Homo sapiens: one gene and its partners. The protein of the gene in region 4 interacts with the protein of the main gene of each other region in a biochemical or structural test. Each region holds a gene or a part of one and is shown on either strand. Other genes may lie near its edges.

Region 1 (4,527 bases), on a different chromosome or scaffold from region 4:
ATTCAGTCTATAGTAATAGAAAAAAACTTAAAACTTATACAGTAATAAACCCTAATTTATCTAGTCATTTTACACGTCACCAAAATGTTTTTTTAAAAAGTTATCCAGAAACGCAAGTATTCTAGATCTCAATTCTCAAAAGTACAACACAGCAATAAAGCCTACATAATCATGTTTCAGAATAATCTGTAAACAAAATTTTACACATGTAGATTATTTCTTCCAATAGCCAGATGTGTACAAATGGCTTCACAACAGTCCATTCTGCCCACTGGCAAACCAAATGTTAGCTATTCCAGGTAACACACACACACCACCTTCAAGAGGAGAACAGAGAAAAGCCTAAGCTTCTCATTTTAATCAATACCAGAAAATACATGCATTGCCCCTATTTTATGCATGAGAAAAATGAGGCTTAAAGAACTTAGTCTAGTGTACAAATGGTAAATGATAGAACCAAGATTCAAACACAAGTCTTTTGAAGACCACTTAATGATCAAAGATACTGACCTACTCAGGAATTTAAAGTTAAAATGTGGAATGCCTAACTGCTTCTGGGTATGCAAAGAACCAATCCGAAGACATGTTTTACAACTTACATGAACTGGGTTTTTACCAACACTGACTCCCCTCTATTAGAAAGGCTTTGTATATACAGCTATATATGAGCCTTTCACTATGCCCATTCTGGATGTCAGGCACATAAAAAACAGGCCTGACACTAACACAGCTCATCTAATTCCTACCCTTCTGTAAAATAAATAAACATTAATTCAATTAATCTAACCCCTTGCTATATACTGTATGTGTGTTAAGGGATCCAAAGAACAATTTTTTTTATCTTGATGAGCTTACACTGATAGACATGTAAAGTAACTGCAATGAAATGTTATAGGTATCATGAAATATGAACAAGGGACACGAGTTCAAAGAAGAAAGGTCAATTTATTAATGAAGAATCAGGTTCAAAGAAATATACAACTAGTAAATGGAAGAGCTTTTATTTATTTGAGACGGAGTCTCACTCTGTCGCTCAGGCTTAAGCGCAGTGGCACGATCTCAGCTCACTGCGACCTCTGCCTCCTGGGTTCAAGCAACTCTCCTGCCTCAGCCTCCCAAGTAGCTGGGATTACACATATGCACCACCACACCCAGCTAATTTTTGTATTTTTAGTAGAGACTGAGTTTCACCATGTTGGCCAGGCTAGTCTTGCGGCCTCCTGACCTTGTGATCCACCCATCTCGGCCTCCCAAAATGTGCTGATTATAGGTGTGAGCTACTGTACCCAGCCAGAGCTTATTTAAAGTGAGTCCTTCTCCATCTCCCAAGTCTTCCCCCTTTTTTTTTGTAGGGGTGGAGGGCGGGGGGAATGGGAACGGGAAGGGGGACAAACAAGACGCAGAATATCATCTTGCTGTTTGTTGCCCAAGCTCGAGTAAAATGGTGCAACCTCAGCTCACTGCAAGCGCCGCCTCCCCAGGTTCAAGAGATTCTCCTGCTTCAGCTGCCTCAGTAGCTTGGATTACAGGTGTGCACCAACGTGCCCAGCTAATTTTTTATTTTTAGTAGAGATGGGGCTTCACCATGTTGGCTGAACTCTTAACTCCTGACCCCAGGTGATCCGCCTGCCTCAGCCTCCCAAAGTGCTGGGATTACAGGTATCAGCCACCGTGCCCAGTCCTTTTTCATATTTTCTACAAAATATGGAACTAGAAAAACACTCAGGTCACTTAGAATGTGACCTGAGTTTATTAGATTAACATGTCTTTATTAAATAGTTATATTAATTTTGAATAGATGCTTCAAATAGCATATACTTTCACCTGATCCAATACTATACAAGATATGTTTTTTCTGTGTAAAATTAACAATTTAAAGGTAATCCCAAACACTAAAGTTGTTTTTGTTTTTTTTGAGACAGGGTCTTGCTCTGTCGCCCAGACTGGAGTGCAGTGGCACGATCTTGGCTCACTGCAACCCTCTGCCTCCTGGGATCAAGTGATTCTCCCACCTCACCCTCCCGAGTAGCTGGAACTACAGGAGTGAACCACCACAGTTGGCTAATTTTTTTTGTCTTTTTAGTAGAGACGGAGTTTTTGTTGTCTTTTTAGTTGAGAGGCTGGTCTCAAACTGCTGAGTTCCAGTGATCCACCCACCTTGGCCTCCCAAAGTGTTGGGATTACAGTCGTGAGCCACCATGCCCGGCCCCAAACATTGAAGTTTTAATAACCTAATTCCAGAAGTTCTTTGTAAGCTTTCATTTCAATTTTCATAAAATCAAATGCTGTCTATGACTGCTTCTGAATAAAGGCAATCTGCTGATGGGATTTAGGCAAAGCCAAATTTCGTTTCGTTTGTTCGAAAAAAGAACTTTATAAAGAAGGCAAAATATTTCAATGTTACAATTTAACACTAAAGTTCTGCCATGCCAAAAGAGGAAGAACTACGAGGTTCAGAGATAATGAAACTAGGCAATATAAAAAATTGAGACCCTATGATATTTAAATTCTATTATGAATCAGCAGCAAACTACACCAAAAAGAAACAAAATCCCCAAAGAATAAGGAACACTGTGATCAGCAAATCGACTCAAATCGTACAAGTCCAGAATTTATGTTAGATTTTTTCAGAAACCTTCTACTTCTTTTGCTCTCATCAGTGCAAAGTTGCTCCCTCACAGTGCCTCAGCTCTTCTGTGGCAATAAAACGTTGGTATTCTTTTTTTTTTTTTTTTAAAGTGGTGCTGTCGCCCAGGCTGGAGTGCAGTGGTGTGATCTCGGCTCACTGCAACCTCCACCTCCCAGGTTCAAGTAAATTCTCGGGCCTCAGCCTCCAAAGAAGCTGGAATTACAGGCATGTGCCACTACACCCAGCTAAAAATGCTGGTATTCTTATAGGTTGATTTTCTACTCTTAACTGCTGACCCATAAAAATTTGAGTTGCAAAATATATCTCTGGTCAGTTATTCATTCCAGGGCATATATTCAAATGCCTACTGATATTTCTACTTGGATATCTCTACTTGGATATCTCATGTCATGCGTCCAAAACTGAAACTTGTCTCAATCCCTTTTTTCCTGTTTATTAATAGCAAGCCATAACTGAAAGCCATAAACCAGGATCTCATCATCAACTTCTTCCTCTCTTATCTCAGAATCAAGATAGTTATCAAGTAAGATCTTTAAAATTTCTTGAATTAGCTTCTCCTTTATGCCCACTGTCACTACCATCTTAGTTCATGATGTTATCTTCAGCCTAGATTATGGCAATAGCTTACTAATGATTATCCCTCCATCCTAATGATAAAGTGGTCTTTTAAAAATGTTACTCCCCTGCTTGAAATCTATGATAGTTTTTAAGATAATTCCAACTCCTAAGTACATACGGTGCTTTATGATCTGGGTGCCCATCTAGTTTCATCTTCTGTCTCTTCTATAGAACATGTTCTCTACTGCACATAAAATATTATATGGATAACATATCTTTTTCTCTTCCCTACTTGGAATATTCTTCCTTATAATATAGCCCTTCCTTTGTCTTATCTGCTCCCTACCCTTCTTTTATACCTCTTTAAGCACATAGTTACCATTATCCACCCATATATCTAACATTTACTTATATTTCTCTTTTATTAGACTACAAAGCTCCTCAACGAGTAAGGTTAAAGGTGGAAAAAGTCTTCAGGTATCAGTAACCTACGTGGGAAATGACATAATAATACACTTGAAAAAAAAGTTGAAAAAATAATCCTTATGGACCAAATAAAATAGTACCTATGGACCAATTATTTTAATTCAGATAGTTTTTCTGGTTGACTATGCTCAGGCTGCCAAAGGTTACATTTTTCAGATACTTTCACATTTTTCACAGGTACTCTCTTCTACATCTCTGTCATAGATTAGGTGGGAGTTAGTGTTGTTCTCTAAATCCACTTTTTCTGGATTTCCAATAAAAAAAAATTTAAGCAAGTAAATATCAGAGGCAATAGGTAAGGAAGTCAATTTCTTCTAATTACATCAATTCTTGTTGGAAACTAACCTTAATACAGTACCCCACGCCCCCCTCCCCAAAAAAACCCACGCACACAAAAAACTAGCAATGCTGTCATTTCTTTCGAAGGTTTAGTTTTTAGTCAATAGTTGTGCTTCCGAAGTAGCTTACCTTCAGAAAGAATAAGCCAGTACATATGATTATTAAAGCCAAGCAATTTTGCTGCATAACTAATGATCTAAAGGATTTCCCAACAACTCACTAAAATCAAAGTTACTCTATTGAAACTCAAAATTAGATGGTATATTCCCTACAGTCAGGAATCTTCAGTTCTGTGGCACTGGCACCACTTTAAGGGACCTAAGTAGTAGTCCAAAGCAAAAGTGACGTTGTTAACTGTCCAGTTCTCCCACTAAATCTGTAATTTATGGGTTGCTTTAGGTCACAACTGCTTGCTACATAGAGCAACCATACTCACAAAATAAGCTACTATTTATCTTATACAGTGATGCTTTGTCACAAAGAAGTATTGAGAA
Region 2 (4,527 bases), on a different chromosome or scaffold from region 4:
CCCTGCTACACAATTTATGTGCCAAATCTTCGTTTAGTAATTATTTATAAAATAATGTAGAGAACCCAAAAAAATCCAAAACAAAATTATATATTCATGCTACTATCAAATTGGGAATCAACTTTACTAGAGAAATTTAAATTTGACCATGTTTCTTTATAGCCATTAGAAAATATAACATTACAAGCAAAAAAATTTTAAAAAAAGAAAATGCTAGCAAACTATACCTACAATTCTATTTTAATTCTTTCATATTTAATTAAATATATCATGTTATATTAGCATTCTGGTAATAACACCAAGACTCATTACTTTCTCGTTAAGTTTCCACATATATGCTAGAGGATTTTCCTGTATAATAATTCTTACTATATATATTGTTTAAACAATTCTAGTTTATCAAAAATTGTAAGAAATATAGAAAATGAAGATAAATTACAATGACAGATATGGTCCAGAGTACTGTAAATATTTACATTACTAAAGTAAGGGAGTTATGAATAACATGATTATAACCATTTGTTACATGTGATTCACCTAAAAAATATTTGTGAAAGGCCATAATTCAAAAGGTAAGGGTGGGCCTTTAAATGAGAGTATTTTGAAGGTTCTTAGTAACTAATTAAAAACAAACAGAAATAAATGGATTCTTATTGAAAGTTGTTATATAAATACATTGTATTTTGCCTTTTTAGAAAAACAAACTTAATAAAACAATAATTTGAGACAACTGCCCAGAGTACTGCTTTGAAATTCAGTAGTTTTGGTGTTTTTTAAAGTTAAACACAAGGTCGTATGATTAAAAACTCTGTAACTCACTAGATAAAGCTCTTTCAGGGCAGGGAGAAGAGAATGGTGTTCATGGAAACATGTTACTTATGTACTCTCACCCAGAAAGTAGATTTGAGCTGTCAGTGCTCATTCTTATGCAATCAGATTTTTTGCTCATAGAAAGAAAAAGCCTGTTTCAAGTCTTGTAACTGCCTCTAAAGTATTGAAAGAAATAATTTTAACAAAAGTAATAAGTATTGAGAGTAGCCAATTATCAAACAGCAGATAATTTTGTGTTTAGGACAATGCAACAAAATTAAAAGCAGCAAATTTATAAGGAGGTAAAGACAGACCCATTGTAATATTTTATTGATTCTCTTTCACAAAAAAGAACAGTGATGAAACTTATGGCAAACTGACACTTGTTACTTGTAGGAATTCAATTATTGGCTTCATTAGACTAATTTCTAACCTACCAAAACTGTGGATGTGAGAATGATTATGGTTAATTACAACTAACTCTCTGTGACTTAAAAAAAAAAAAAAAAAAGATAAACACACAGCCTGGTTGCGAGCTGTGGCACTCCATTATGTGTAATGATCTAGGATTCAGCAAAGGAAAACATAATAGTGATCCCAGGAAATATTTGCCACCAATGCTTTGGAAAATCATTGTAAATCCTTAATAATATTTTGCTTCCTAGGTGATTCAAAGTACAAGAATATTCAACCTTCATCACAAACATCTGATCAAAGGTGAAATGGCAAGAATGAAGTATGGCTGAGGGGGTTAATTTCATAGATATGAATCATACTTACAGGCCCCATAATAGTGGCTTGCCAGTGGAACACTGAAACAAACAAAGGAGTTTTGGAGTCATTAACAAATGTTCAAACCTATATTTTTAAAGGTAGCATAATCCCAGAAATAGAGCAAGGCTTACAGTCATCTCCCACAGGTCCAGCTGAACAGTGAGCAGGTGGATCGCGCTGTAGATCACTCAATTCCTGAAGGAAATCAAAAATATGTAAGGTTAATTCCTTCTTTTCCCAATGAAACAAGGGTAATGATCCATTAAGATGCAAACTATTAGCTTTAAAAACATTTAAAGCAGTTCTATTCAAAATATAAAAACATAAATTGTACTCTGTCATTGACTGGTAGAAAGAATAAGGTACTCAATTCCTCCATGAGACAGCTTCAGACCTTGAAAAGATTAAATGGAAAAAAAATACTGTTTTTCTTTAACATCCCTAAGAGAAAAACTATTTAATGAGTACCTACTGTATGTAAGATAATTTATGTAAATGCTAGGTTGATAATATATCAGAAAACAGGTACTATTTTAACAGGTTACAATCTATTGAGGGAGCATGAAGGCTCAGAAAGAATAATACTTCAGGATAACTTTTTTTTTTTTTTTGAGACAGGATCTCACTTTGTCGCCCAGGATGGAGTGCAGTGGCACGAAAGCTCACTGCAGCCTCAACCTCCTGGGCCTAAGCGATCCTCCCACCTCAGGCCCCCACTCCTACCCCGAGTAGCTGGCACTACAGGCATGTGCCAGCACACCCGGCTAATTTTATTTGTAGAGATGGGGTCTCGCCATGTTGAACAGGTTGTTCTCCAACTCCTGTGCTCAAGTGATCCACCTGCCTCGGCCTCCCAAAGTATTGAATTACAGGCATGAGCCACTGCACCCAGCTCATTTAAGGACAACTTGAAATGGGAAATAAACGAGCAGCAGTCAGGCCATGTTTTGAAACTTAGAACATTGATTCATACCCTGTTTCCTGCCCTCAAGGCAGCAAAGATCACAGAAAGGACACAGCTTTAGAGTTCACCCCGCCCCTGGGTTGTAATTCCAGTTCTTTCCATTTTTCTTCTTTTCTCTTTTTTGGATTTTTTTTTTTCCTCTAACAGAGAGAATTCCAGTTCTAATAGATCTCACTCTTTGGCCTTGTGGAAGTTACTTCACTTCTTTAGCCACAGTTTGGGAGAAACTGATCATCCCAAAGAAGAAAGGCATACATTCAATATAAAGGACTATAACTGAAGAACTTAATTTAGTTTGGAAGATCAATAATCATCTCTGAGGAAGTGACATTTAAGCTGAAATCTAAAGGATGAGTAGGAGTTACTTTTGGAGGAAAAGAGTGATACTGGGAGGCAGAGTGGCAGAGGATGAGGCTGGAAATGTGGGCAGAAGCCAGGCAGGAAACAGACAACCATACAGACCACATTAATGATGTGGTGTTTTATACCAAATGCATTAGGTAGGGGGTGAGGGAGGTCTTAAGAAGTGGCATGTTCTGATTTAATGGATGGTTGTGACTGGATTAGACATGGGAAAGAGGAGAAGCTACAATATTAGTTGCTGCATAGGCAAGAAAAATGGGGGCTTAGATTGGAGAAGTGGCAACAAGATAGAAGTGGTAGATGTGAGATACTCTGAAGGGCCTATCTATCACAGGAGTTGATGAATTACATGTGCAGAGGAAGGAGAGAAGTCATAGATATGTATGATGAAGATTAGGGACAGCTAACATTTATTCAATGTCTTAGTCATTCTAACAATCCTCAGAGATAGGTGTTATTATGTTCCCCATTTTACAAGTGAATAGTTAAGGTGACATACTTCACTGCATGCTTGAGTAACTACTATAGGGCGGAACTGGGATTCAAACCCAGGTGGGCGATCATCTCATGTTTTAGTTCCACAAATGTACGAATGTGGATGCCATTCACTGAGATAGAGAACAATAGAAGACAAACTGATTTGGAGAGTAGATATGTTGAATCTGTAATCCTTGTGATATGAAGAAACAATGTGGTTCAACATACAGGGGTGGACCTTAAAAAAGGATAGAAATTGGAAAATCATTGCATATATCTGATATTTAAAACCATGAGAATGATGTAAACATTTTTGTGGGAACACACAAAAATAAATATGCACTTAATCAAATCTAAGATGTCATCAACTGTACAGCACATCCTTATTTTAAGTACCAATAATTAAGAAAAAATGCTGCCAATTTATTTTAAAACACCATCAATTGTAAAATGCATCCACACTTTAGAAAAGTTAAAATGTGAAAGATGTCCACCTTAGAATCACTGCAATAAGGTAATTATGGCAATGAGTTCAGTGCTCTAATAGAGACAAACAAGAAGGAGGGTGTGACAGGGAAAGGCCTTCCTAAGAAAGTGATAAATGAGCTGGGTGACTGAGCCAGGTACAAACTCAGGTCTCCTTCTAAGCTCAATGTTATTTTCCAGTATACCTTGGTATTTTCATTTTTGTTTTGCTTTTTTTTTTTTTTTTTTTAAATAGCTGGTGCGGTTTCTCTTCCTAGTAAGAATTAACTAACAGGGTTAGCTGCTTCTTTGGTCCATGTTACAGTTAAGCAATAACGGACCAAGCAGGCTGATTCATGCCTGTAATTCCAATTACTTGGGAGGCTGAGGCAGGAGGGTCGCCTGAACCCAGGAGTTCGAGGCTGCAGTAAACTATGATTGGGCCTCTGCACTCCAGCCTGGGTGACAGAGCAAGACCGCATTTAAAAAAAAAAAGAAAAAGAAAAAGCAATAAGGAAACAGATTTCAGACTTTGACTTAACTATGCTGGGTAAAAGCAGCAAGGCTTTGAAGTTCAAGTCTGGGTGCCACCACTCACTTCCCACATGATCTTGGGAAAAATCTTTTTTTCTCTCTCCAAAGCTCAGTTTTCAAGTGGCACTACCTCCATCCAC
Region 3 (3,799 bases), on a different chromosome or scaffold from region 4:
TCCCAGTGCCCCCTGTACCCTCCCCGACCCCAGCCATAATTTAAATAACTTAGAGACAGAGTTGGAGGGAGGGGACAGGAGAGGTTGGGGTCACGGTGGAAGGAGGAAGAGAGCCCACTACAGCCGCCGCAGCGCCCGCTTCTTGTCCGTCTTTTTCTTGGCCGCCAGCTTCTTATCGCGCTCGCCAGCATGCTTCTTGGCCATGGGACCCTCAGCCCCTCCCGGGCCCCCTGGGGCCCCAGGGTCGGTGGAGGAAGCTTCAGTGCCACTGGCCAGGGCCCGACCGGCTTCGGCCCTGCCGCTGGGCCCGCCGGCGCCCCCGTGGATCTCTGTGAGCAGACGGGCCCGAGCCGCATACTCCTCGTAGTTCTCCAAGAGCAGGCGGCCCGCCTCCTCGTTGAGTGCAGACTCGGGGTTAGGGTGGATCAGCAGGCACTTGATGGTCTGTGGGAAGAGGCTCAGGGTCACAGTGGGTCGGGCAACCTACAGGGACCCCCAGGCCTCCACAAGAGGGTGGCCTCCGCACTGGCTGTTCCTTCTGCTCCCAACTCAGCTGCAGATCCAGGCCCCACCTATGCTGCATCCTCCCTCATCTTTGCTCCTGTCTCCCTCAGAGGCCACCTTCATGTGACCTGCCTCACAGCAGATGTTCCCAAAAGGACACGATGCCATAGGCCCAATGGTTTAAAATGTCCCTGGTCCTCCGTGGAACTTGCTGGGTAACGGGGGAAACGCCAAGGCCCCCTCTCAGGAGTCCATTACTTGCCTGAGCCCCAGACTTGAGTCCTATTATGGTTTTGAATTTGCCTCCATGCAGTTCAGCATGACCTTAGAGGCCCTCTGGTTCAACGAGTGAGGCCTGCAGCCTGGACAGAGAGAAGAGACTTCCCCAGGGCCTCAGGATTTGAGGAAATCACACCTGCGTGTTGGACTCTAAAGCTCCCCATCTTTCCAGATACAGCATAAATCCTGACCTCTGTCTTTTATCAGACATCCGAAGTTCACAGCCTAAGACTCTAGCTGGGTTGGACCACACACAAGAGGGCAAGACACCAGGACTGCTGGCTGAGGTGCACTTCGAGGGTGGTCCAGAGATTCCTCTCAACCCCCTTCACAGCCCGTCCTGAGGGGTAAATTGGAGTGCAGAGGTGTGACCTGCAGCCAGGCCTCCAGCAGCCCCAGCTGGATCCTCTGAAGTGGGTCTGGGCAAACTGGCCACAGCAGTTTGCTCCCTGGGGCCACTATGACACATACACAGTACCTGGCTCAGCAGATGCTCAGCAGATATCACTGATGGTGACCAGGACACAGGTTCCCACCCTAATTCTCATCACTGCACCCAAACTGCAGGTCTGGCTGCTCTTCTTGCTGGCTGAGCCCCTGACAGGCCCAGATGCTGACCTAGCAGCAAGTAGGCCTGGAGCTCGGTGCCAATGTCCCCAGCAGCCTCCAATGACACCCCAGGGGAAGGGAGGCGGTACATGTGGGAGGGAAGGGTTTGGGGTCTGTTTACCTTGGAGCTCAATCCTCTCCCTCCCCATGGCAGGAAACCCCAATTCCCCACCCTCTCTGCCATGTGCCCCAGGGACTCATTAGAAATTTGGTTAACTTTTTTTTTTTTCAGCTTGCGGGAAGGGTTGGGAGGCAGCAGGCTGTAAGCAGCCTGGAGCACCAGCCTAGACCAGGACGCCTCCACCTCAGCAACACCGCAGCCAGGTCATTCTGTGTCATGGAGCCATCTCGTACGCTGCAGGATTTGGGCAGCACCCTTGGCCTCCACCCACTAGATGCTAGTGGCACCCCCGAGTTGTGACAACCCTTTCTGGTCTCCTGACAATGCATAATACCCCTTGGGGGGCAAAATCACCTCTGGCTGAGAAACACTGGTTTATGAACCCTATCGCTATTAAAAAACCACTGAACTGTATACTTTGGAACTGAGTTTTACGGCATGTAAGCTCAGCTTTAGCAAAAAAGCCTCTAATGAGACCCCATCTCTGCAAACCATAAAAATATAAAAACTAGCTGGGTATGGTGGTGCATGCGTGTAATACCAGCCATTCAGGAAGCTGAGGCAGGAAGATCACCTGAGCCCAGGAGTTCAAGGCTACAGTGAGCTATGACTGCGCCACTGCACTCCAGCCTGGGCAACAAAGAGCCAGTATCTTTAAAACAAAAAGAAAGAAAGGAAAGAAAGGGAAGAAAGAAAAAGGAAAGAAAGAAGAAAGAAAAGAAAGAAAGAGCTTCTAACTAGACCCTTGACCTCCACCTGTCAGAAAACTGTCCTACAGGGTAGGCGCAGTGGCTGGCTCCTATAAGCCCAGCACTTTGGGAGGCCGAGGTGGGAGGATCACTTGAGTTCAGGAGTTTGACACCAGCCTGGGCAACAAATGAGACCCCATTCCTGTTTTATTTTTTATCTTATTTTTTTTTTTTTTTTGAGATAGAGTCTCACTCTGTCACCCAGGCTGGAGTGCAGTGGCGCGATCTCGGCTCACTGCAACCTCTGCCTCCCAGGCTCAAGCGATTCTCCTGCCTCAGCCTCCCAAGTAGCTGGGATTACAGGCATGTGCCACCATGCCCGGCTAATTTTTGCATTTTTAGTAGAGACAGGGTTTCACCATGTTGGCCAGGCTGGTCTCGAACTCCTGAGCTCAAGTGATCCACCACACCTGGCCTACCCTATCCTTGTTTTTTAAAAAAAAGGGAGAAGAGAAAAACCATCCTACAATACAAACTCACCACTCGTTGCATAGTAAGGTGCTCCTGGGCACTTCTCAACAGTACTTGGGTGTCCTGGGTCTGGCACTGTTTGTCTTTCCAGGAAAGCTAGCAACATGGATTTTTATGTGGAAACCTTCAACCACTTCAGAGTTGATTCAGAAAAACTAAACAAAGCGCTATGGCTCAGACACCAGCAGACCTCCAGAGGCAGGAGGCAGGAGGCCCAGCCCCAGCCCAGAACTCACCAGCAGTACGTGTCGGATGCCCAGCTCAGCCGTCCAGTCCCTCTTGAGCACGTTGACGCAGATCTCGCCATTGGCGCCCACGTTCGGGTGGAAGATCTTGGTCAGGAAGTAGCCCTTGGGTGGGGAGGCAGGGAAGTCCTTCCCCAGCAGGAGTTTCATGCGGAACAGACCTCCAGCATATGGGGTCCCCTCTGGAGTGGAGGGAGGGGTACAGGGTCAGGGCACTCAGGAGTCCCAAGGCACCTCAACACCCCAAAGTCCAGTCTCCACGGTCTGATTGTGATGCAGGTGGGTGCCCCGCCAACTCTGCCAACAGACTGGAGGATTCTTTTTTTCTTTTTTTGAAATAAGGTCTCTTGTGTCACCCAGGCTGGAGTGCAGTGGCACAATCTCAGTTCACTGCCGCCTGCAATTCCTGGGCTCAGGTGATCCCATCTCAGCCTGCCAAGTAGCTGGGATTACGGGCATGCCACCAGGTCTGGCTACTTTTTTATTTTAAGAGATAGGGTCTCACTATGTTGCCCAAGCTGGTCTTGCACTCCTAGGCTCAAGCAATTTGTTCACCTCAGCCTCCCAAAGTGCTGGGATTACAGGCGTGAACCACCATGCCCAGTCAGGCTGTAGAATTCTTAAGAGCAAGAGGCCAGGTGTGGTGGCTCACGCCTGTAATCCCAGCACTTTGGGAGGCTAAGGCGGGTGGATCACCTGAGGTCAGGAGTTCAAGACCAGCCAGACCAACATGGAGAAACCCCGTCTCTACTAAAAATACAATATTAGCCAGGCGTGGTGGTGCATGCCTGTAATCCCAGCTACTCGGAAGGCTGAGGCAG
Region 4 (4,409 bases):
TCCAGTTCTTCCTCCTGAAACGCTTAGAATGTTTCACCCTTGCTTCCTACCCCCTGTAGCCAATTTTCATAGGCATTTTTTTCTTTTTTTCTGCCTTATTTCTTTCATTTAATCTTTTTCTCTGCCTTATTTCTTTCATTTAATCTTTTTCTCTTGTCATATAGCTCAGTTGATCAAGCAAGGGACAGATGAATCCCAAATTCGAGATTGCATTCTAGATTGTGGATGATTTCCCTTGTTTTAAAGTTTTTCTTTCATGCTGCTTGTTTAAAAAGTATTAATTTGGGAATTGTGAGGGGCAGGCCACTTTCTTTGATCACAGAGAGACCTCTCTCTCCAGCCAGCCACTTTGAAAATTTCATCGTCACATGAGGAATTGCACTGCTTATGGGTGACTTAACACAATTCATCACTTCTAGAAAACAGCTCAGCTCAGATGCACAACTGAATGTTTAGAAGCATGTTATTTATAATAGCCTACTGCATACTAAAAACATTTACAACTCATTCTGTCTTGGTAAATAAAAATTGGAAGGACATTTTCCCATAAAATAAAGCCCAGAAGATCTCTAAGGTCAGTGCATGACTGAGAAGGTCAGATCTAAGGAAGGTTCAAGAACATTCATCTAACTTCAAGAAGACAGCATGTGGAGCTGTGTAGGAACTAGGGGTCATCACATCACCCATAGATTCTAGAACAGTGATGGAAAGGCTCTCAAACAGTGACTTATGTCTCTGTGTAACTTACACATTTAAGTTTCTGTTTCTTTATAGATAGAAAAACATTATTTTGGCCAATTAACTATCTTTTTTCAAGATTATTATTTGTAATATAAAATAAGCTATAATTTTGAGTTCAGTGTTTAAATTGAAATATGTAATGTCAACTCTTCTTTTTCTTTCTTTCAGTGGTCTGGGGAGAATGTAATCATTCCTTCCACAACTGCTGCATGTCCCTGTGGGTGAAACAGAACAATCGCTGCCCTCTCTGCCAGCAGGACTGGGTGGTCCAAAGAATCGGCAAATGAGAGTGGTTAGAAGGCTTCTTAGCGCAGTTGTTCAGAGCCCTGGTGGATCTTGTAATCCAGTGCCCTACAAAGGCTAGAACACTACAGGGGATGAATTCTTCAAATAGGAGCCGATGGATCTGTGGTCCTTTGGGACTCATCAAAGCCTTGGTTTAGCATTTTGTCAGTTTTATCTTCAGAAATTCTCTGCGATTAAGAAGATAATTTATTAAAGGTGGTCCTTCCTACCTCTGTGGTGTGTGTCGCGCACACAGCTTAGAAGTGCTATAAAAAAGGAAAGAGCTCCAAATTGAATCACCTTTATAATTTACCCATTTCTATACAACAGGCAGTGGAAGCAGTTTCAGAGAACTTTTTGCATGCTTATGGTTGATCAGTTAAAAAAGAATGTTACAGTAACAAATAAAGTGCAGTTTAAAACCCAACTCTTACTCTTAATTTGTTCCTAATACGTATTTTTGGCAGGGAGAGGGAACGGTCCATGAAATCTTTATGTGATATAAGGATTTTAAGTTTGGGCCAGTGAACAGGGTAAATAAAATTTAACTTTTGAGCATATGGAATTTTGATTGCCTTTAAAGTTACTATTCTGTATCATTGATTCATCAAGAAAACCTAGATCTGCACTCACCTCACTGTTCAATCATTGAGTGGTAAAGGACAGAAGTATTTTCTAGTTCTGGTCAGATGATATAATTTTTTTTTTTTTTTTTTGTGGGGGTGAAGTCTTGCTCTGCCACCCAGGCTGGAGTGCAGTGGCATGATGTCAACTCACTGCAACCTCCGCCTCCCGGGTTCAAGTGATTCTCCTGCCTCAGCCTCCCGAGTAGCTGGGATTACAGGTGTGTGCCACCACACCCGGCTAATTTTTGTATTTTTAGTAGAGACGGGATTTCCCCATGTTGGCCAGGCTGGTCTCAAACTCCTGACCTCAGGTGATTCGCCCACCTCAGCCTCCCAAAGTGCTGGGATTACAGGTGTGGGCCACTGCACCTGGCCCAGATGATATAATTTAACTGTGTTTTAGGTAACATGTTAATGAGGGAAAATGTTTACCAGTGTAGCATTGGATCAAAAAGTTTATCACACAGTGTTTTAATAAATGGTTTATTCTGCTTACCTTATTTGAATTGTCATTATAATTTTATATGCAACCTTAATTTGTCAAGTAAATACTTTCATTTAATTTGAAAGAATTCATATTCATTTGCTCTTTCATTTGACAATAATAAAATTTAAGGTTTATTACCTGGAAAGAGTGCAAGAAAATACTAAACAACTTTATCAAACTGATTCACACTGAGGGGAGGTTATTTTGTAACAAATAATGGACCACAAGTTCATTTTGTATTCTTCTGTAGTAGAGGCTACTGATATGAATTTAAGAAAAAACCTTAGAATCTTAACTTTTCACATCTGCAGATGCAGTGTGCCATTCTGAATTTTTCAATCTAAGGGATGTGGATACATAGAATGTTTAAAAAGATAACAATTAGAATGAAAAATTAAAATTATGTATGCTTTTATATGGGTTACTTTTTATTGATCACATTTCTCTGGAAATTTTTCTTTATATTTTTTCACAGTTGTCTTTCTAGCTACTGAAAAAATTATACAAATATCTTTGGCCATTTAAATGTTTATCATTGTGCAGTGAACTGTTTTAGTAACTTTCTGTTTGACCTTTTTAGAAGGTTGCATCCTTAAAATGTGAACCAGATACATGGCTTTGCATTGAAGAGGAAAGCAGTAGAATGTCAGGTTACTTTAGGCAGTGTGACAGTATATAAATGAAATGTGGAGGATGGTGGTAACAATTTGATTTTCCACACAGCAAAACCACAGTCCCGCCACCTAACAAAGCCCTGTTTATGCCACACACCAGCATCTGAGGGAAGAGGAGGCACTGTGACAAAGCAGCGCTGATGCTGCTCAGCCTGCGATGATTACAGCTCATCTGCACAGCCATCTGAAAGTTTAATACATACTCATCAGAGGGAACATGCCGGGACAATTTTGGGTTCCAATACAAAAGTTAAGCATCAAACAGGTTTTTCTTTCCATTTGATTAAATGTGCTGATTTTATTTTACTGTTGCATTAGAAACAAACAAGTTATCTTTCGCTATTTAATTTTCCCTCTATGCAAATTGTGTTATTACAGCTGACCGCTATCAGTAAATCTTAATTCTGTCAGTCCCATTGCTTCCTTTTTTATAAAAATACTGTGTCCCCCTTTACTGTCATGAAGTGAAATTCATAAATATATTTCCTACACATATAATTTAAATGTATGTAATTGTTATATGACAGAACTAAAAAGAACTTGTAATTCAGTTGTATTTCAATATAGAAATGCTTGGACATGGATGGGCACGTTGGCTCACGCTGTAATCCAAGCACTTTGGGAGGCCAAGGTGGGTGGATTGCCTGAGGTCAGGTGTTCGAGACCAGCCTAGCCAACACGGTGAAGTCCTGTCTCTAACAAAAATTGGCCGGGTGTGGTAGCAGGTGCCTGTAATCCCAGCTACTCGGGAGGCTGAGGCAGTAGAATCGCTTGAACCCACGAGGCAGAGATTGCAGTGAGCCGAGATCGCACCACTGCACTCCAGCCTGGGCAATGAGCGAAACTCTGTCTCAAAAAAAAAAAAAGAAATACGAAAAAGCAGCACTTTGCTGCTTTTTAAGTTATTGCCATGGAGCCAGGCATGGTGGTGCACACACTAGTCTCAGCTACTCTGAAGGCTGAGGCGGGAGGATTGCTTGAGCCTAGAAGTTTGAGGCTGCAGTATACAGATCATGCCTGTAAATAGCCACCACACTTCAACCTGGGCAACATGGCAAGACCCTGTCTCCAAAATAAATAAATAAGTAAAAGTTATTGCCACGGGTAGTTTGGAGTAATGAACGTTTTATGCTCTGCAATGAAAAGGAGAAAATTTCAGTGTTTAGTAAGCCCTTGTTTGTATTTATTGTTTTTTCGAGACAGAGTTTCACTCTTGTTGCCCAGGCTGGAATGCAGTGGCGCAATCTTGGCTCACTGCAACCTCCACCTCCCGGGTTCAAGAGATTCTCCTGCCTCAGCCTCCTGAGTAGCTGGGATTACAGGCATGCACCACCATGCCCAGCTAATTTTTTGTATTTAGTAGAGACAGGGTTTCACCCTATTGGTTAGGCTGGTTTTGAACTCCTGACCTCAGGTAATCCACCTGCCTCAGCCTCCCAAAGTGCTAGAATTACAGGCGTGAGCCATCACACTGGGCCAGCCCTTGTTTTTTAAAAAAGCATTTAAAGAATAAAATATTACTGATTTGGCTATAAGGAAAATTAGAATTAAAGTACAAATATATTTTAAATTTTAATCTATTTTGTATTGAACATT
Region 5 (4,527 bases), on a different chromosome or scaffold from region 4:
GACTACAGGCGAAAGCCACCATGCCCAGCCACAGGTACGTCTCTTTAATGGTTAGCAACGTCTTCTGACAAAGTTTTTCTTGAAATTATCATTCTGACTCTAAAGCAGTTCCTCTTCCTTTCTCCCTATCTCTGCAACAGAATTCACTAATTTATTAATATATAACATTCTGGATACTGGACTGGTGGAAAGGCAAATCGAAGATTTTTACTTTTACTCCAAAAGAGTAGCTATATTCTTCTGTAAAATTGGAACTGTGTGAAATAAGTAGGCCACTGGATAGACTGGAATTCTGAGATATCTCTTATAGAGGTTTGTGTTATGGCAGAATTTGACATTATCCTTCCTCGATCCCTGCCTTTTAAGATCTATAGCCCACAGTTTATGAGGAATCCTAAGAAATAAGCAGTCCCTACTTTTATACATACAATATATTTCTTCCTGAACACTATTGTTTAAAGCGAATTGCCATATGGCCAGATCCTAAGTGAACGTGTGTTACTGCCTTCATTAGGTTGGACATCAGCAGAAACTGTCAACTAAGTAGTGAGAAGTCAATGTGTTGGTCATTAAAAAGAACATTAAACAAATGGGCAAAATATCAAGATGCAGAAAGTGGGCACTGCTTATATAGGAGTTCTTCTATCTTAAAATTTGCACTGTAAGGATGAAAAGCTTTTTAAAAACAAATGCGAAGCAAGCTCTTCTAACAGCATCATCCCCAAAGGCTATGTGGTCTAAAAACCCACTAGCCCGAAACAGTTGGTTATATATTATACCTTGAAGTCTGTGTTGTTTACGTGTTCAAAAACCAAGGCGGGGGTTCGTGACTAGGGGAAAAGAACAAAAACAAAAACACACATTAGCAATAGCCCTGACAGCTTTAATGGGGACAATGTTTGCGGATGCTGCGTGGTGAAATTTGGCAGTCCTCGCCTCAGTAGTAAGAAACCCTCTATTGCTACAAGCCCTCCCCGCTCTGATCATCACCGCACTTAGGTCATTTTTGGGATGGATTTCAAACAGAAGACATGGAGCTGAAGTCTCACCAGGCTCTAGGCAGCCCGACAATGCGCCCATCGCCCATCGGCATCGGACCTGAGTTTGCAAAATGGATTAACACATTTCAGTTTCCAGTGCTATCAGTCTCTTAGCCTAGAAGAATAAGAAATAGTCTGTGGGTGGAGGTCTCTTTGAAAGAAAGACCCAAGCTAGTTAAATGGTATATCTGATTAAGCACTTTCAAAGCAGGACTTAATGATGAGGGTTGGGGGAGGGAACAAAAAGAGGCCAGTTGTGCTCCAGGTCAAACACCATCTCAGCTCTGGCGGGCCTTGCTAACACCTACTATACTCACCACAGGGTCTTTTACAATGTCTGCCAGTGTGATGATGTTGGGACCTCCTCTCAAATTCTCCAAAATCTTTATTTCACGCTTAATTTTCTTCTTTTTTACTGGCTGAAAGGGGAAAAGTACATCAGCAAAAAAAAAAAAAAAAAATTTTTTCAGAGTATTTCAACACGTAGTGTAATACATAAATGATAAATGGCTTACTTATGAGCACACCTTGAAGGAAGAAAATGTGTCACATTCGTCTCTGAATCCTTCTCCTAGCACTGTGCCAGGTATTCTGCAGGTACTTACAAATGTTGAATTGAAAGAAAAAAAGATTTCTATTCCAAAGACCAGACACTTCTGCAGAATTAGCATTTCAATCATCAGTCTTGATGTTAATGTTTTAAAACATGTTAAACATGTTAATGTCTTAAAACCTTACAAAGTAGCAATTTAAATCGTTAGTAATACTAAAGTATATCAAACTTTTTATCAATTAGGATGAAACATGGGCCCTTTCCATTTCTTCCTCTAATTAGGGCCAACAACAAGGATGGCCAAAACATCTTTGTGTAGCACAACCCTGAGGGTAAAGGGTGAGTCTTGGAGTCACAATGCCCAATGTGAAACCTACCTTTACTACCTGCTGGCTGTTAATGGCAAACTACATAACCTCTCTAAGCCTTTCATTAAGTGTAAAATGAGTAACAAGAGTACCCATCTCATAAGATTGTTGCAAGAATCAAATGAGGTATTCGAAAGATTTCGGAATATGGCTGAAACATAACATAATAATAACTGTCTAGCCTGATCACCAATGCTCTTTTTTTTTTTTTTTTTTTTTTGAGACAGAGTCTTGCTCTGTCACCCAGGCTGGAGTGCAGTGGTGCAATCTTGGCTCACTGCAACCTCCGCCTCCTGGGTTCACGCCATTCTCTTGCCTCAGCCTCCCGAGTAGCTGGGACTACAGGCACCCGCCACCAGGCCAGGCTAATTTTTGTATTTTTAGTAGAGACGGGGTTTCACCGTGTTAGCCAGGATGGTCTCGATCTCCTGACCTCGTGATCTGCCTGCCTCGGCCTCCCAAAGTGCCAATACTCTTATAAATGAACCCCTCCATTCTAAAGAGTATTCTGCAGAGCATATCTTAAACATTCCTTTGTCCTTACCCATTCTTTCCACATCTGTTCTAGTATGGAATCCTTTTCATTTTTTTCTGAGGAGGGCCTTGGTCCCACTGCACCTCCTTTATAAAGCCTTTTTTTTTTTTTGAGACAGAGTCTTGCTCTGTCGCCCAGGCTGGAGTGTAGTAGCATGATCTCAGCTCACTGCAACTTCCGCCTCCCGGGTTCAAGCAATTCTCCTGCCTCAGCCTCCCGAGTAGCTGGGATTACAGGCGCCAGCCACCATGCCCAGCTAATTTTTGTATTTTTAGTAGAGACAGGGTTTCATCATGTTGGTCAGGATCGTCTCGAACTCCTGACCTCATGATCCGCCTGCCTTGGCCTTCCAAAGTGCTGGGATTATAGGCATGAGCCACTGTGCCTGGGCTTATATTATAAAGCCTTCTCCTGAATAGTCTAAAACAGTGCTGGCCCAAAGGAAATATAATACAAACCACATGTGTAATTTTAAATGTGTTAGTAGCCACATCAAGAAAATTTTAAAAAGGACAAAATTAATGTACTTTATTAATCTAAAATCTTAACATATAAATCAATATAAAAATTATTAATCTATTTTACCTTTTTTTGTATTAAACCCTTGAAATCTAATGTATTTTACTCTTACAGCATATCTCAATTCAGCCCAGCCATATTTCAAGTGCTTAACAGCCTCATGTGGCCTGCGTGCCTGCTGTACTGGACTGTGCAGGTCTTTTCCTAGGGTGTTGGTCACCTCAGACTAGATGCACTGCATATAACTCTTAGAAGTTAAGTACATCTCATCTCTTCATTAACAAGATTGGTGGTTACTAAAGTTTGATGACCAACAATCACCTGGATTTTTTTAATATACAGACTCACAGAACCCACCAAGATTCACTAAATCAAAATCTTGAGAGGGAAACGGGGGATTTATTTTTAGATACTTTCCAGGCTGATGATCCAGGTCCAGAAACTACCAAATAATACTATAAATTCTTTTAACTTTGTCTTAAGCCTCAAGCACATGATAGCAGAAAGCAAGCAGATTTTGGAAACATTGACAGTTCTCAAAACCTGGCTTTGTGGTTGTGCAGTGTTCAGAAAAGCATTTAAATGTTTCTCACTGCTGAAAGGGACTATACTCGCCTGTTAGTGATTTACATACCACAGTTAGAACAGGTCCAATGCAAAGTGGTACCCAATAAACAGAAGCTATTTTACTAATGACTTCCATGTAGTCCATTGAATTCAACCCACGACCTCTTACCCAATACAATATCTACCTAAGAAACAAGATAATATAAGTCTTCTCTTCCTGCTTCAACTATTCAGATCTTTATAAACTGTTATATTATCTGGGAGATCTTTCCACCCTGCAGAGACTAACCCAACAACTTACCTCCTGTTTTCCATTAACCCAACTGCTGGTTTTTTAGTGGAAAAAAAAAGCTTCTGGTTGACAAAACTACTCTACAGAATGCTTCAAATCTATAAACTTAAAAAGCTGGTTTGTGACAGACCAGGCAGCTGACTCAGGCCCGAATTTAATGCGATCAATGCAACTTTTGTCTTATTAAATAGGGGAGATTAAAAATTTTAAATATGGTTTACAAAGGAAATTCATCTATACTTACACCACCTACCCACAGTTACAGTAAAATATACAATACAGTTAGAAAGACTGAGCTGAAAAAAATCTTTCTAAATCACCCTTCATTCAAAATCATCAAGGGCTCACAATTACCTAGAAGAGATAGTCATATAATTTTAAGACTGCAAGGAAATGCAGAGATTATTTTTTCCAGGCCTTCGCCAACTTAATCTCTCTTTCCAAGTTCAACTCCTATGTATGGTCACATAACATCTTTCACATGAAATATTTCTCTCACTTTTCCCTCCTCCTCTTTTCTTATCTTGGTGCACTCTACAGCCTGCTTCCCTTCACCACTTCCACCCAACACCTATCCAAATCCTCCTCCCATTCAGCCTGAAGACAGCTCCTGGGAGCTTTTCCTAACTACTACCCTCTTCTGAACTGTAGAC
Region 6 (4,527 bases), on a different chromosome or scaffold from region 4:
TTTTTCAAAGTATGGAATGATCATTTAATCCTTTTAAAATTATTTAAAATTTTTTTTTTACTTTTTAAGATTATTGGGAAAATGCTAATCTTCTCTGTATCATCCCAATTTGAGCATATGTGCTGCGGAAGTGAGCACTGGAATGATCATTTCCATGAGAGTATATGGTGTGCCTTTACAGCTGATAGACAGTAATGACCAGGACTCTCAGGTACCAGCTTCAGAAACAGGGCTTCATCAGACCTCTGAATCCTGGTGTGCCTTCCCTGAGCATGGGCCCCCCACCTAAGGAGTGATTGATACTCAGAATTTTGCATTAATCTTTTATCCTCAAGCTTTTTCTTTTGAACTTTAAAAAAATAAAAAAAAAAACCCAGTTACGGCTGGGCGTGGTGGCTCACGCCTGTAATCCCAGCACTTTGGGAGGCCGAGGCGGGCGGATCACGAGGTCAGGAGATCGAGACCATCCTGGTTAACACGGTGAAACCCCGTCTCTACTAAAAATTCAAAAAACAAAATTAGCCGGGCGTAGGTGGTGCATGCCTTGTAGTCCCAGCTACTCAGGAGGCTGAGGCAGGAGAATGGCGTAAAACCGGAGAGGTGGAGCTTACAGTGAGCCGAGATCGTGCCACTGCACTCCAGCCTGGGAGACAGAGAGAGACTCCGTCTCAAAAAAAAAAAAAAAAACCCAGTTATTAAAATGTCATATGCTGGGAGCTCCCATTGTTGTTAACCTGCATCAGCAGTGTTTCAGAATGTCGGTGCCCGTGAGCTGCCTGGGTTGGAAGAACAACATTGTTCATGAGGCGTGTGCCCTTGGGCGTGTCTTCTCTGTGCCTTGGTTTCCTCCTGTATAAGACAGGGAAACAGGGATGCTCTCTTCACGGGTGGTTATAGGCATTAAGTGAATTTAATGGCACAGCACCTAGGATTGTGCCTGACATACACATAATAAGCTCTAAGCTTCAGTTACTCCTGTTGTCATGTTGTCATTTTGTTGCCATTGTCATTTTCTTTCTTTCTTTCTTTTTTTTTTTTTGAGACAGGGCCTCACACTATTCCCAGGCTGGAGTACAGGGGCGCCATCACAGCTCACTGCAGCCTTGAACTTCTGGACTCAAGCAGTCCTCCACCTTTGGGAGTACAGGCGTGCACCACTATGCCTGGCTAATTTTTAATTTTTAGTAGAGACAGGGTATCACTGTGTTGCCCAGGCTGGTCTCAAACTCCTGGACCCAAGCTATCTTCCCACCTTGCCTCGGCCTCCCAGAATGCTGAGATTACAGGCATGAGCCACCATACCCAGCCACCATTGTCATTTTCTGAATATTAAATTGACAAATGTTCTTTGTGTGTTGTTTTAAACATGCTCTTCCTCAGCCTAAAACTTCCATGTCAAGTATTACAACAAATAGATAAACATAACACAAGACGTTATAATTGAATATGTATATAACCTTGGAGGTGGAAATGCCTTCCTCAGCAAGAGAAAACTGAGAAGCCACAGAGGAAAAGATGGGTTTAATAAAAAGTAGAGCTCCTGCATGGCACACACCGAGAGGACTAGTTGGCAGCGTGCAGGGCACCTGTGGCTGCTCCTCACTAACCACTGTGTGTTTGTCTTTTTCAGTTTATTGAGAGAACATTCAATTGATGGCACTGGCTGGGCTCCCACAAGAACATTAAAGGTAGAGTCTGTGCCTTGATCTTGATCATAAGTTGTCCCTGTGGTCCTCTCCCTGCAGTAGCCAGCCTCCCGAGAAAGCAGCACATGTCCTTGCCTGTCACATCCACACCAGTGGCCGGACACACCCTGCCTCCTCTTCTCCCTGCTGCCTAGGCTACTTAGCCAGTCACTGACCTCGGTCAGTTTGGGCCGGATGAGCATCCTTGTTGACTTTGCCAGGCACCATTCTAGAACCAGAGATAGGAGCCCAAACTGCAGGCTTCACAGCCAAACCACCCGCCACATAGGAAACCTCATGGCCATCATTCATTCAACAGGGATGTCTTGAGCTTTTCTGGCCACTAGGTGTTGGAGGAGGAGCAGCAAATTGATGTGCAAACCACTCCCTATGGCCAGAGAAGACTGTCAGGTGTTGGGTACCTAACATCAGGCAGGGACCCTAGGGGAACAGCACAGGAAGGGGCTTTTGGCCCTGGCCCTGCATAAGGGAACACTGCAGACTGCATGCAGTCCTGACCCAGCTCCTCCGAGCTGTAGTCTCTGCCACCATGGGCAGCCCACCCAGCCTTTTCTTAGCCTCTCCCCACGCTCTAGAAATGTCCTGCCCTCTCAGAACTTTCCCTCTGCAGGTCGTGCCTCTACCTGGAAGGCGGCCCTCTCCTCCAGCCCTCTCCCTGGCAGACTCCTGCTCCCCTGGGGCTCAGATGGCTGTCATTGCCTCTGGAGCCTCTCCTCCCAGGGTGGGTGCTCTGGGGAACACGTCTCATGAACAGTGCTGGCCTGCTGACCTGCCCATCTGTACATCCCCCTTCCTCAGGCTGAGGGCTCACCTTCACCCACACTCCAACCCTAGGCCTGGCTCACATCGGAAGGTCAGGGATGGGTGGGTGGATGGATTGATGGACTAGAGAAAACAGAGAAAGGCAAATAAAATTACCAACTAGCAAAAAGTAGGGGAGGAGCATGAGAACAGGCCTAAAAAGGACGAAACTCTTGAGTTGATGAAGAGGAAAATGGAGAATGAATTTGTGATTCACAGATGGCAGGTCAGTACAGATAGAACAACTCTGGCTTTCAGTTTTATTTAATGAAAATCTCTGATCCTTGAATTGTGAATCTTCTATGATTCTTTAAATAACTAATGCAAAATCATTAAGAAAACTTAATAGGATGAGGGGTAATTAACTTATCTACGACCGCAAGAGGCAGTAGATGTAAAAACAACAGACTTTATTTTGAAGGTGACTTTTTAGAAGTCAGAACCATATTTGGTGGTAACAAGTAAGAGGTGATTTAAGGTGGAGCCCCTATGCAGACACTGGCCTGCGGGCCCTGTCGTGCAGGATTGGGCTTGTCAGGTCTGACTGGGAGGGTGTCTGATGCTATCTTTGATTTTATATTCACTACCTGAGACTGCTCATATCTTTGAATTTTCCAGAGTTTGTTGTTACACTTGAAGAGAAGTTATTTTAATTTTCTATCTTGAGAAAAACAAACCATGCTAAAGACAGGTTTTGATACAGTGCAAAGCATATTTCTTGATCATGGGTTTAAAAGACTAGGTGCACTTTGGCTTAAAACTTGTTTTCTGTTTTCTTTTTTATTTCAGGATGTCGTTTGGGGATTAAACTCTTTGTTTACTGTAAGTACAGTGATCAAAATCCCAAGTTATTCTCAATTTCCTTGTTGCTGGTTTTAGACATTGCGTTAAGACATGGTTTTAACACAAAACCATGTTAAAAAATGAAACATGGACTGGGCACAGTGGCTCACGCCTGTAATCCTAGCACTTTGGGTGGATCCCCACTTGAGTCCAGGAGGCCCAAACCCCATCTCTACAAAAAATAGAAAAATTAGTTGGGCATAGTGGCACATGTCTGTAGTCCCAGCTGCTTGGAAGGCTGAGGTGGGAGAATTGCTTGAGCCCAGGAGGCAGAGGTTGCAGTGAGCTGAGATTGCACCACTGTACTCCAGCCTGGGCGACAGAGACTCTGCCTCAAAAAACAGATACACACAAAAACCCCCCAAAAACATGCTGGCTGGGCATGGTGGCTCACACCTGTAATCCTAGCACGTTGGGAGACTGAGGCAGGTGGATCACTTGAGCCCATGAATTCAAGACCAGCCTGGGCAACATAGCAAGACCTGTCTCTAAAAAAAAATAATAAATTAAAAAATAGCCCACCGTGCAAACAGTTACATAGTTACCCCTTTTTTCTATTGCTCTTTTATGAGTCAGAAGTAGAACAGTGAGGTGGGGAATGAGGGGACTTTGGAGTGACATGTGGGGAGGTTGTCTGGGGCAGGGGCCACAGCAGTCTCACTTCTGCCCTGCTGAGGTGGCTGACCCCGGTTTCTAGGGGATGAGGCTGGTTCCACTTCCCTTAGCCCCTTCCAGCAGGGTGGCTGTTACTCTGGGGTCACTTGGCCCAGTCCACTTCTGTGCCTGTGGCTACACTAGCCAGCCCAGGGAGTGGCCCTGTCACCTCCCAGGTGTTCTGGTTGGGGTGGATGATTTTGTGGTTACCCAGCCTTGAGGGCTTTTCATGAGTCCAGAACCTCAGAGTTGTTGTCTTTTTGTCAGTGATGAGCTGCTGAAGTTTGCTGTTCTCAGGAAATAGCATTTCTCAGACAATGGCCCTAGGGCAGGAAGAGGCTAAATGGACTCAGCCAAAAGCTGTTGGTTGGATTTTTTTTATACGATATTATACGTTCCTTTGAATTTTTACTTTTCGATTCATAAAGGCGCTTTTAAAGAAATAAGCTTCAGAGATCTGTTTGTGAAAAAATAGTTTTTGCTACTTTTGATAAAACCTAAGGTGCCTCTATGATCTTGGATG
Region 7 (4,527 bases), on a different chromosome or scaffold from region 4:
CTACCCAAGGACAGCACCACTCTCCACTAAGGACCAGGGCTGGGCTGCCATGCCTTCATCGGCCTGGCTCTACTTTTACCCCAACTGGGCAGACCTCAGGTGAGTTTGTATAGTAGATTCCCATGCTGGCCCAGCCCGTCCAATGCAGGAAGACCTAAAGCCCAGGTTGGGGTACAAGTGTGGACCCTGGGGATGTCAGATGTCAACAATGCCTTAACTGCTCTGGAGAAGGAAGAAGACTTCATTGAAACATTCCTCATACAAACCCAGGGGCCCTGGAAGAAAGCAAGGGAGAGGACCGAGAAGAAGTGGTATACACAGGGACAAGAGCAGCCCTGGCTGTTGCTTACCGTCTCCAAGGTGAAACTTTGGCCTGGATAGCTCCCCAGAGCCTCAGCCCAAGCACACTTGGATTCTACCAGCCAGCCTCCACCTTTGCCCTAGTAAGATCTTAGCCCACTGCTCCATAGCCCCTGCCAGCGTGAAACCAGAGGGAGGCCTTTGCATGAGTTGGGGCAGAGCATGCCCAGCAGCAATCTACCCGTGGAGCTGGCTAGCAGGCTCTCAGGCCACTAAATTCTCAGGGCCAGACTGCCCAAGCCTTACCACTTAAAACCATTCCATTCATTTTTATCATTTTCCAAAGAGCCACAGATTAACTGTTCATTTCTTTGCTCAGTAGACTACACAATCTCAATTAGAAAAGGGACAAGAGGTCAGATGGTCCCGGCCATCTTCAGGTCCCTAGAGTAGGCAAGGGCTGCACTCACAGGCCAACCCCTCCCATGCAGAGGTGTCTCTGCCACCCACACCCTTTGCCCTGAGCCCTAACACCATCAAGCCTAAAGAAATCTAAAGGACTCATCTTCAAAATCAGACTGGAAGCTCCCAGATTTAAACATTCTGAGCATACTAAATCATTACAAAGCATATCTTTCCTTAGTTATCCAAATGATTATGGAAATAAACTACAAATCCAATAACTGCTGATCAAATTCAGGGACTTAAAAAAAAAAAAGCATGACCTTATAACCAGCATCAAGAAGAAAGCATCTACAGGAGGGAGCATGCTCCATGCTCACCTTATAACCAGCATCAAGAAGAAAGCATCTACAGGAGGAAGCATGCTCCATGCTCACCTTATAACCAGCATCAGGAAGAAAGCATCTACAGGGAGAAATCATCTACAGGAGGAAGCATCTACAGGAGGAAGCATGCTCCATGCTCATGACCTTATAACCAGCATCAGGAAGAAGCATCTACAGGAGGAAGCATGCTCCATGCTCTGCTTTGGCAAAGCAGCCAATCCATCCATGAGAACAAATTATATACAGGACAGCGGCAGGCACAGGGCAAGGGCCAGAGGCTCAGATGTGCAAAGTGGGAATGAAAAGGAACAGAGAAGGTGAGTGGATGAGGAAGAACAGGAAAGGAGGGCACTCACGCAGGACAAGGGTGTGAGCTGAGGTAGCTGAAGGCTACACAATGACCAAGTGAGGCCGCCTGGTGGACAGATGGTGCAGCTTCCGGGGAGAAGGCAGGAATGGAGACAGGTGTGGGAATCCTTCATGTCTGGCATAATCATCTATGATGCCGAAAGTAGTAGGGTCCCGAGACAAAACAGAACAGGAGAACAGCAGGAGACCAACAAGAGTCATGTTTAAGAGTGAGGAGGAAGGAGTGGCAGAACAGGAGCGAGTGGCAGGCTGGTCACAGGACTGGGGGCTGGAATGCTGCCCGTGCTCCAAAAGCTCAGGAGGCAAGCAAGGGCCATGATGCCAGCACTGCCGAGCTAGAGGTGTGACAACAGTGGGGGCAGCCTGTGGGCTGGGTGTGACGTGGTTTCAGGAGAGTGAGAGGAAGGGGGATTGCAAACTGGAGTTAATTATAAGACAAGCCTCTTGAAGGGGAGGGGATCAAAGGATGCAGAAAAGAGTAGGCACTAAGAGGGTGCTAAGGAAAGCCATCGTTAGGAGGGCCTTGAGCCCATCAGAAGGCAGAAGACTGTGAGATGGGGGAGCTGGGCTGTGGGGGCAGACACTGGAGGCATAAGCCCCAGAAAAGACATGGGGTGAGGGGAACATGTGGGCAATTAGGAAAAGGGACTTGAGACAAATGGAAGGCACAGGTTGGAGGGGACCAGGAATAAAGCCCGAAATACAGGTATCCAAAGGGTTAGAGACATGAATGCAAAACCAAGAGAGAAAGCAAAATATCTAGAGGGGAATGCTTGTCCCCTCCTGAGGAGCTCAGAGAAGAAGGTCCTGCTGATCCATCAGGCCAGGCGCAGGGAAGTCAGGAAAGAGCAGGAGCACAGACACACTCCTTTTCTCTGTGTCTACAGATCTGCAAAGCTCAGGACTCCCTGAATTTGACAAAACGAGTGCCAAGATGTGACTCTACTCAGGACCCAAGGCTACACTCCCTACCTTATCACCCTAGAGCGACAGCCACTTCTGTGCATCTGCTGGCTGCCTAGACTAAGAGCCTACTAAGGAGCAGAAAAACAAGCCCAACAGCACACACATCACCTTAAAGAATAATCTGGTAGGAAGTGGAAGTGTTCAATACTCACAGGAACAATAAGCCCTTGCCAAGTCAATAAATTAGCTTCATCAACCTGGATGTTACGGAAGTTTTTCATCCCACATTTGCGGATTTCTTCAAGCTCCTGTTGATTGACAAAGCATAAAGGGGTGTCAAATAGGGGAAAGCACCACATATTAAGATCCCTCCTGATGCCCTCAAATTAAACCAAGTGCCAAAAATGCTAATGACAAAATTGGACAGTGAGGACTAAACTGTGCTTGGAGTGGTTAAGGAGGCATGGAGCTGCCATGGCGGTCCCCTCTGCAAGGTTGTTGCCTCTCCCCATGCCCCAGACCAAGACAAGCCCCCACCTCAGTGAACCCCCCTGAATAGGACAGGGGGAACCATGCTTCTGCAGACGTACCACCTCCTCTTTGGGTTGGTCACCATGGCTGTTTAAATCCCTCAGCACCCTGCATAGGGCAGACATGTGGCAGGAGCTATCCTGAGGTGCTCTACACCTGATACCTTCCAATCAAGATTCATTAAGCACTGATTATGCACCGGATGCTGAGAAGCTAAAGATGAATAAAACTGGGGACTGGGAACAAACCAGACACAAACGCATATCCAGTTTTCTACCCAGTGCTATAAGTGTGATTTCAGAAGGACTCCACCTCAACATGGGCACACAGCAAAGAGAACCATCCAGTCTGGGACTGGGGTGGGAGTGGGGGGGTGGGGACGGGAAACCTTCACTGAGCCTGTTTCCTCAGCTGCAAAACAGACCCAGAGTGCAGAAAAGGAAAGGGAAGCCATGTTGTGGGCAACAGGACCCCTTGCAAATATGTGGGGTTATTGTTGTATAAACAGTCAATGCAGCAAGTGCCATTTCACCCAGAAAGCACAACTTTACGACTTCAGGGTCCTGCCTGAGATGTCTTCAGAACTGTCTGTCACCTGTTTTTCAACTGTGCACCAGCCTGACATTTCCCATTGCCTCCAACATCTCAGTGAATGCCTGGCAGGCGCTATAACCCAAACCACCCAGCAATGCCCTCCTGCCAGAACACCAGCCTCGCCAACATTCCTCCACTCTGACACATGAAGTGCCACTCTACCCGCCTCAGCCCGGCCTCCCATCCAGTGGCACAAAAGCCGCCTCCACACCTGTCAGGCACCTTCTCTTCTGCAGCCCGAGCACCATCCAGCTGAGCCCTGCCTCCTTCGCCAGGCTGCTTCCTCTGGCCCAGCTCCAGCACCCTCCAGAACCTCCTTACGTGGTACTTCAACTCACAGTGGCTTGGGGGCTCCCTATCAGCCCCCACATCAAGCCCAAAAGATCCTTGCACCTCATACTTCCATCACACAGTGGTAGTTTAAAAGGCACCCTGAGGCTACACAGGCAGGGAAGGAAACAATTGGCAAGGAAGGGGGAACCGGAGCCCAGGTTACTGGTTCTGAGTAGGAAGATGTGCTGGGCGCCCGGCCCAGAGCAGCAGAGAGGGAGAGTGCAGTGAATGAATACACGGAAGAGGTGGAACACACTGGTGCTTCATAGCAGGCAACAGGCACAAGTTTCCCCCCACAGGGTGCTCCTGCCTGTCACCCTCATCTGCCCACCACAATCACCTGGACTTGGGCCCAGCCCCAGAAATTCTGGTCCAGCAAGTGTGGGTGGAGCCTGAACATAGGGATTTCTCACAGGCTATAGCTGTGGTGAGAGAAGAGGCACTGCTGGGAGCGATGATGGATCCATTTCTCCCTGAGGAGGCGTTAGCGGCATGGGCTGCAACCTCCTGCAGTGAGGAATGGGGTGGCCTGGCCCCTCTCCACCTGCATGAGGCCCCTCTTTCCCTGCATAAGGAGGTACGGAACCTGAGGGACCACTCCAACCTGCCAACTGCCACCTGGTCCTCCTGCTCACAAGACTCATAAGAAATGCTCCCCTGGGGATTATGAAGCCTGGGCAGACTCAGAAAGGGGAAGAGATCTCAC

What was found.
Region 1: the proteins of RNF7 (region 4) and UBE2D3 form a complex in vitro, tested with the Homo sapiens proteins (5 studies listed by BioGRID).
Region 2: the proteins of RNF7 (region 4) and UBE2D1 form a complex in vitro, tested with the Homo sapiens proteins (11 studies listed by BioGRID).
Region 3: the proteins of RNF7 (region 4) and UBE2S form a complex in vitro, tested with the Homo sapiens proteins (3 studies listed by BioGRID).
Region 5: of the proteins of RNF7 (region 4) and CSNK2A1, one has a biochemical effect on the other in vitro, tested with the Homo sapiens proteins (2 studies listed by BioGRID).
Region 6: the proteins of RNF7 (region 4) and UBE2F form a complex in vitro, tested with the Homo sapiens proteins (10 studies listed by BioGRID, with this or other methods).
Region 7: the proteins of RNF7 (region 4) and UBE2L3 form a complex in vitro, tested with the Homo sapiens proteins (2 studies listed by BioGRID).

What each region holds. Positions count from the first base shown.
Region 1 is NC_000004.12:102,802,777-102,807,303, forward strand, and holds part of UBE2D3 (ubiquitin-conjugating enzyme E2 D3), read right to left. Parts: intron 1-4,527. UniProt on the Homo sapiens protein: Accepts ubiquitin from the E1 complex and catalyzes its covalent attachment to other proteins. In vitro catalyzes 'Lys-11'-, as well as 'Lys-48'-linked polyubiquitination.
Region 2 is NC_000010.11:58,358,590-58,363,116, reverse strand, and holds part of UBE2D1 (ubiquitin-conjugating enzyme E2 D1), read right to left. Parts: intron 1,780-4,527; coding exon 1,716-1,779; intron 1,623-1,715; coding exon 1,591-1,622; intron 1-1,590.
Region 3 is NC_000019.10:55,401,319-55,405,117, forward strand, and holds part of UBE2S (ubiquitin-conjugating enzyme E2 S), read right to left. Parts: intron 3,161-3,799; coding exon 2,970-3,160; intron 2,830-2,969; coding exon of another isoform or gene 2,683-2,829; exon of another isoform or gene 2,645-2,682; intron 2,025-2,644; exon of another isoform or gene 1,814-2,024; coding exon of another isoform or gene 1,625-1,813; intron 1,340-1,624; exon of another isoform or gene 1,272-1,339; intron 445-1,271; coding exon 118-444; 3' UTR 1-117. Other genes in the region: RPL28 (large ribosomal subunit protein eL28), read left to right, coding at 1,625-1,813. UniProt on the Homo sapiens protein: Accepts ubiquitin from the E1 complex and catalyzes its covalent attachment to other proteins. Catalyzes 'Lys-11'-linked polyubiquitination.
Region 4 is NC_000003.12:141,744,250-141,748,658, forward strand, and holds the end of RNF7 (RING-box protein 2), read left to right. Parts: intron 1-909; coding exon 910-1,028; 3' UTR 1,029-3,311; downstream 3,312-4,409. UniProt on the Homo sapiens protein: Catalytic component of multiple cullin-5-RING E3 ubiquitin-protein ligase complexes (ECS complexes), which mediate the ubiquitination and subsequent proteasomal degradation of target proteins.
Region 5 is NC_000020.11:498,476-503,002, forward strand, and holds part of CSNK2A1 (casein kinase II subunit alpha), read right to left. Parts: intron 1,460-4,527; coding exon 1,358-1,459; intron 831-1,357; coding exon 780-830; intron 1-779. UniProt on the Homo sapiens protein: Catalytic subunit of a constitutively active serine/threonine-protein kinase complex that phosphorylates a large number of substrates containing acidic residues C-terminal to the phosphorylated serine or threonine.
Region 6 is NC_000002.12:238,028,926-238,033,452, forward strand, and holds part of UBE2F (NEDD8-conjugating enzyme UBE2F), read left to right. Parts: intron 1-1,630; coding exon 1,631-1,688; intron 1,689-3,296; coding exon 3,297-3,329; intron 3,330-4,527. UniProt on the Homo sapiens protein: Accepts the ubiquitin-like protein NEDD8 from the UBA3-NAE1 E1 complex and catalyzes its covalent attachment to other proteins. Together with the E3 ubiquitin ligase RNF7/RBX2, specifically neddylates cullin-5 (CUL5).
Region 7 is NC_000022.11:21,591,005-21,595,531, reverse strand, and holds part of UBE2L3 (ubiquitin-conjugating enzyme E2 L3), read right to left. Parts: intron 2,672-4,527; coding exon 2,576-2,671; intron 1-2,575. UniProt on the Homo sapiens protein: Ubiquitin-conjugating enzyme E2 that specifically acts with HECT-type and RBR family E3 ubiquitin-protein ligases.